2 separate regions of the Homo sapiens genome follow, and region 2 is reported to be linked to region 1. The links are microRNA targets in miRTarBase. Many come from high-throughput screens and were not tested one by one. Region 1 holds a microRNA gene; the other region holds the end of a gene's coding sequence.

What was found. Region 1 holds the annotated microRNA hsa-miR-1972 (UCAGGCCAGGCACAGUGGCUCA, at 1,245-1,266, opposite strand). A microRNA usually pairs through its seed, bases 2 to 8, with sites in the 3' UTR of a target mRNA and lowers its output. Matches are read on the target gene's strand: a 7mer-m8 pairs with bases 2 to 8, a 7mer-A1 pairs with bases 2 to 7 and ends in A, and an 8mer does both.
Region 2: miRTarBase lists SH3BP2 as a target of hsa-miR-1972. Seed matches in the 3' UTR shown: 7mer-m8 at 1,717-1,723.

What each region holds. Positions count from the first base shown.
Region 1 is chr16:15,009,085-15,012,302 of GRCh38, forward strand. MIR1972-1 (microRNA 1972-1) reads right to left here and starts at 1,313; the gene lies at 1,237-1,313. PDXDC1 (pyridoxal dependent decarboxylase domain containing 1) reads left to right here. Exons shown (of 23, transcript NM_015027.4): 8 at 597-675.
Region 2 is chr4:2,833,494-2,836,493 of GRCh38, reverse strand. It overlaps SH3BP2 (SH3 domain binding protein 2), which reads right to left. Exons shown (of 13, transcript NM_001122681.2): 13 at 1-2,797. The coding sequence ends at 2,660. Among named protein-coding and RNA genes, the nearest start is that of ADD1, 8.8 kb to the left of the region's middle. RefSeq lists enhancers at 956-1,005, 1,266-1,345.

The DNA of each region.
Region 1 (3,218 bases):
TAAGTAGAAACATGGCAGCTCAATTAAGCACCAGAAATTTCTTCTGAAGCTCCTACTTTTAATGAGTTAGCACTGTTGCCTGGATTTATGAATGGGCAGATTTTGAAAATGAGGTTCTTCATTGTCATCATGGAATTGAGTTCTGCTTATTTTCAGACATGCAGGTGATAAATCTCTCCTTAATGATTCCAGAAGGAAAAGGAAGGGATGGATTTTAGAGTTTTTTATTTCTTTTGTCAAGGTAGTTTTATTTTCTAGTTCAGGTACATCAGTGAGTAATAGTAGAGATACATTCTTGGCTGTTTTAGGAGAGTTAAGAGAACATTTCATTTAAATGTAAATGTTTAAAATCAAAGAAATGTTCCTGCATATGTACAGTTTTTACCTTTAATTTTGTTTAACTGATTTTTCTAGTCTTCAAGGAAAACTATTTGATTTTCACATCTATGATGAGAGAAAACAGAAAAATTGTCAAGAGTAAGAATTGATTTGACATTACTTTTGAGAGTTATCTGCTTCTTTTGTAAGTCATAATTTTTCATTTTATAGCTTTTATACTGGGCACCTCATTTTTTAATGATTTGTTTTGGTTCCAGGATGTTGCCTTCCTGGAGAAACTGATTAAAGATGATATAGAGCGAGGAAGACTGCCCCTGTTGCTTGTCGCAAATGCAGGTAGGTAGCATGATGCTGAATCTACCATTTTGAATATATAGGAGCGAGGCTACGTCCTCAGCCTATAAAAGATAAAGTCTTAAGAAATGTGTGTGTACCACATGTTTAAGATAGTCCATATCCACATTGTAGCAAAAACTGTAATAGTAAGGTTGGCTCGTTAGATTTTTCTTTAATCGTTGGTTTGTTTTGGAAGTTATTTTATGTGTGTGTATACTTTTTCATTTAGATGGTAAATGCTTCTCTATCTTCTCCTTCATGTACTTCTTTTCCCTGTTCTAAACTGAATTTTATTTTATTTTTTTGAGATAGAGTCTCACTCTGTTGCCCAGGCTGGAGTGCAGTAGCACAATCTCACCTCACTGCAATCTCTGCCTCCCGGGTTCAAGTGTTTCTCCTGCCTCAACCTCCTGAATTGCTGGGATTACAGGTGCATGCCACCACATCTGGCTAATTTCTTGTATTTTTAGTAGAGACAGGGTTTCACTATGTTGGCCAGGCTGGTCTCGAACTCCTGACCTCAGGTGATCCGCCTGCCTCAGCCTCCCAAATTGCTGGGATTACAGGCATGAGCCACTGTGCCTGGCCTGAATTTTTAAATGACACATTTAAGCCAGGTGTGGTGGCACATGCCTATAGTCCCTCTACTCAGGAGACAAGCAAGATGTTGGCTTAAGCTCAGAAGTTCAATACCAGTCTGGGTAACATAGCAAGACCCCATCTCAATAAATAAATAAAAATAATTGTACTGACGTTGTAAGATTGTTGTAAAAATTAAACAAGAAAATTCATAAGATGTCACACTTAAATATCTACCTTATAGGCGGCAGAGCAACTACCACTTGCTGCTCCATTTATCTCATTCAGCATCATACTTGAAATCTAAGACAGTGCAATAAGGCAAAAAAAATAACTGACAGATTAGAAAGGAAGAAATAAAACTTTGTTTGCAGGCATGATTGTATAGATAGAAAACTAAAGAAAAGCTACTGGAACTAATGATCAAATCTAAACCATTTTCTGGATTTTTACATACTAGCAAAGAAGAATTGGAAATTGAATTTTAAATGTCATTTATAATAGGATCAAAAAAGATGAAAAATTTATGGATAAATTTAACAAAATATATGCAAGATCTGTACATTGAGAACTAAGAATGTTACTGAGAGAAATTCAAGAAGACCCAAGAACGATATGCCATACACACGGGTTGGAAGACTAAGTATTAAGTCAGTTCTTCCCAAACTAATCTGTAGATTCAACTTGATCCATCTTAAAATCTCAGCAGGCTACAATTTCTTAATAGAACTTGATGAGCTAATTCTAAAGTTTATATAGAAATACAAGGGATCTAGGAACAGCCCAAGGGATTTTGAAAAAGAACAAAATTGGAAGACTTACCTTGTCATACTTCAAGACTTCTGTAAAGTAGCAAGTAAGACTGTGTGAGATTAACCAAAGAAAATAGAGAATTCAGAAATAGACTCATGTGAAGTATATGGACACTTCAGGTTTTTACAGATGCCTGAGTAATTCGAGGGAGAAAGGACCATCTTTTTCCATCAGTGGTCTTAGAGCTTGGATATCCATATGGAAAAAAACTGAATCTTAACCCTTATCTTATTCTCTGTATATATAAATATTAACTATAAATGGTTCATCAACCTAAGCATAGATCTAAGACAATAAAATGTCTCAAAGAAAATACAGGAGATCTTTGTGACCTTAGGTTACATTTCTTAGGATACAAAATATGTGAACCATAAATTGTACTTTATCAAAAATTAAAAGCATTAGCTGTTTGAAAGCCCCTATTAAGAAGATGAAAGGCAAGTTACAGACTGGGAGAAATATTTGCAAAACATTTTTTTCTTTTTTTTTTTTTTTTTTTGTCTTTTTCTATTTTTATTTTTTATGTTTTTGAGATGGAGTTTTGCTGTGCTGCCCAGGCTGGAGTGCAGTGGTGCGACCTTGGCTCACTGCAACCTCCGCCTCCCAGGTTCAAGCGATTCGCCTGCCTCAGCCTCCCGAGTAGCTGGGATTACAGGCGCACGCCACCGTGCCGGGCTAATTTTTGTATTTTTAGTAGAGACGAGATTTCGCCATGTTGGCCAGGCTGGTCTCAAACTCCTGACCTCAGGTGGTCCACCTGCCTTGGCCTCCCAAAGTGATGGGATTACAGGCGTGAGCCGCCACACTCAGCCAGCCACTGTCCCAGTCCTGTCTTCTTTTAAAATTTCTTTTTCATTCTTTTCCCCAGAAGCTACAAAACATTTGTTTGACAAAGAACTTGTATCTAAAATATATAAAGAACTGTTACAACTCAATAAGGACACAAGCAATACAATTTTTTTTTTTTTTGGAGATGGAGTCTCATTCTGTTGCCCAGACTAGAGTGCAGTGGTGCGATCTTGGCTCACTGCAACCTCTGCCTCCCGGGTTCCAGTGATTCTTCTGCCTTAGCCTCCCGAGTACCTGGGATTACAGGCATGTGCCACCACACCTAGCTAGTTTTTTGTATTTTTAGTGGAGATGGAGTTTCA
Region 2 (3,000 bases), not on the chromosome of region 1:
GTGAGACTTGGTTCTCTCACCTGTAAAATGGGTCTACTAGCAGCTGCTTCTCCAAGCAAATGATGTCAAGCACCCAGCTCGGCACCTCACAGATGTGGTCAGTAAATGGTAATCCCAACCCTACCCTTATATGTGGACTAGAACACTTATGGCAAGTCTCGGGAGGTCATGGGAACTCCTCATGGCTCCTTCTTCATGCTGGAGGACCACGGCCTGCCCCATCCCACCCCAACACACTCTTGAAACTGAGGCCCTCGGCCTAGAGCAGCTCACACAGACGTGGACAGCTGTGCTAGCAGGTGCAGAGTCTGGGAGGCGAGGCTGGACCAGGGCCCCAGCTGGGCTTCGGGTAACCACAGGCCTCAACTGTCCAGTTGGCCAGAGGGACCTATCACCTGGCTCTGGGCCCCAGGATGCTTTAGCCACTTGAGCCGGCTCCAGGTGACCGTGTAAGTGACATAAAGCAAAGGTGTCCTGGACTGCACCACTCACTAGCTCAGCACCCCAGGCACCAGGCTGGAAACCACATCTCGCACCCAATTCTCCATTTAAAAATTTTACAGGAAGGGGCCAGGCACAGTGGCTCATGCCTGTAATCCCAGCACTTTGGGAGGCCAAGGTGGGCAGATCACCTGAGGTCAGGAGTTCGAGACCAGCCTGGCCAACATGATAAAATCCCGTCTCTACTAAAAATACAAAAAATTAGCCAGGCGTGGTGGCGGGCGCCTGGAATCCCAGCTACTCGGGAGGCTGAGGCAGGAAAATCGCTTGAACTAGAGAGGCGGAGGTGGCAGTGAGCGGAGATCACGGCATTGCACTCCAGCCTGGGCGACAGGGTGAGACTACATCTCAAAAACAAAAAACTAAAATAATAAAATTTTACAGGAAGAGAAACTATGGCCACAGTGGGGAGTGGCATGACTCCCTAAGCAAGTTCAGGTCAGACAGGGCAAAGAATTCTGACTGCAGGGAGGAGGAATGGCTGGTTTTCCAGAGATAGATCAGAACAACAGAAGCTCCCTGTGCTCCAGCCTCGGCTGTGGTGCACTGACCTCTCACCCCAGGCAGGCTGAAGAGGAAACCCCTGCAGAGGTGGCCTTGGACACCTGGTTCCTGGAAGCAGCTGGCTGCCGTCATCTGCAGGGCCTGCAGTTCCACCGCACCCTATGGCCCCCTGGGGTCACAGCCTCCCACATCCGCTAACCAGCCTCATCACTTGTTTCCGCCAGCAAACCACAGGTCCCCAGAACACACCCAGGGGAAGGGGGCTGCAGGACCTTCTCCCCCAGTCAGTCACTGTCAGTGGGCCCAAGTGCTGACCTCAGTTTAGGTTTCCCTGACATAAGGTGCTAAGAAAAATCACAAGGATTCTAGGGTCCCTGCCAGCCCCTACCTCCCTGAGTCTGTTTCATTAAAAATCCAGCCTGGAAGGTGTGCCAGGGAGAGTGACCTGCTGGAACTCCATGGCAGAAAGTAAGGGGATGGATTGGGGCTGGGCCTGAGCCAGGTATTGCCTGGAAGACTTGGGCATCTGGGTACCACCGTCCCTACGCACCCTTGGCCTGCTTAGGGTCCACTGTTCCCATCCCATCGTAGCTGTTACTTCCTCCAAAAAATCTTCCGGGAGCCCCCAGTCCCTGCACACCCAGCTGCCCTGGACACTGTGCCGTAAGCACCTCATACCCAGCTGTCCCCAGACTGGGCTGTGAACTCAGCCAGGCCAGAGGCCCCTGTCTGGAATGGGACCAGGCATGCAGGAGGTACCCAATAACTGCTCGCTAATGCAGGGAATGAAGCAGCTGTAGCTGCAGGGCCTTCTAGCTCTGTAGCCCGCTCAGTGTATGCAAGTTCTGGAACGGGGACAGCCACTCAGGAGGTACCCAGTAACCAGGCACTAATGCAGGGAATGAAGCAGCTGTAGCTGCAGGGCCTTCTAGCTCTGCAGCAGCACTGCCCTGGCCTGACCTGAGGCAGCAGAACTGGTGAGTGGGGTGTGGGCTCCCAGCCCAGACTGCCCAAGTTTGGGTCCTGATCTGTTACTCGCTGTGCACCCTGGGGAAGTCACTCAGTGACCTGCACCCTGGAAGACAAGACAACCAACTGTTGGGGTTCCCGGGTACTGCTGCGGTCACCACTTAGACATCAGCATGGGCACCCAGTAAGCTGGTAATCCCCTCCTTCCCAATCAAGCCCCAGCCACCAAGGCAAAGCTCACTGCTGCTTTATTGGAGGCAACAGCCCCTACTGGAGCCTGTGTCTTAGCGTTCCTGGGGGTCCCAGGGCCAGCCCCGGCCCCCACCCAGCTGCCCTGGCCCTGCCTGGCTCCCAGCCCACTTAGGGGTGAGTGTGATGGGGGGACCAGTGTTCCTGTCCTTGGAGCCCAGGCACAGCTTGGTCCTGGGTTTCTGGGATTGGGACAGGGCAAGTTAGTGTGGGGCAACAGAGTCCCTTCGTCCTCTGGAGCCTGGCGCCTGGTTCAGCCCTAGAACCCAACCTGCTGGATGAGACTGGCTGGGTCCTACGAGATGTCCATCACAGAGGCCCTAGGCAAGCACAGCCTTGCTCCTGCTCACCCTCCCATGTGGGCCCATGTCCGTCTGTGTGGCCTGGGGTCAGGGCCCCTGTGACTGCCTTGGCCTGGCAGCCACATGGACTGCCATCACCTAGGCCCAGTGTAGCCGTAGGGGTGCCGCAGCAGCAGGCTCTGGTGGCTGGGCAGCACGTGGGTGTGGTAGTGCTCCACCATGCTGCCCACACTCACAAACAGGACCTCGCCCTCCAGGTAGAACTTAGAGTCCTGTGGGGGAAGAGAAGGGGGAGCGTCAGCAGGGCCAGGCCACTCTGCGGCTCTAGGCCTCAGTCTCCCCGTCTGTAAAACAAGGCAGCAGCATCAACAGCGGCATCACCAGGCTGGCCCCTGGCTGTCGGTGGTGCCCCCAAGGTGGCCTCCGCATCAGGCCTGTGCTCTCCATGTTCCCACCTCACTTCCCCTCCGTCCTC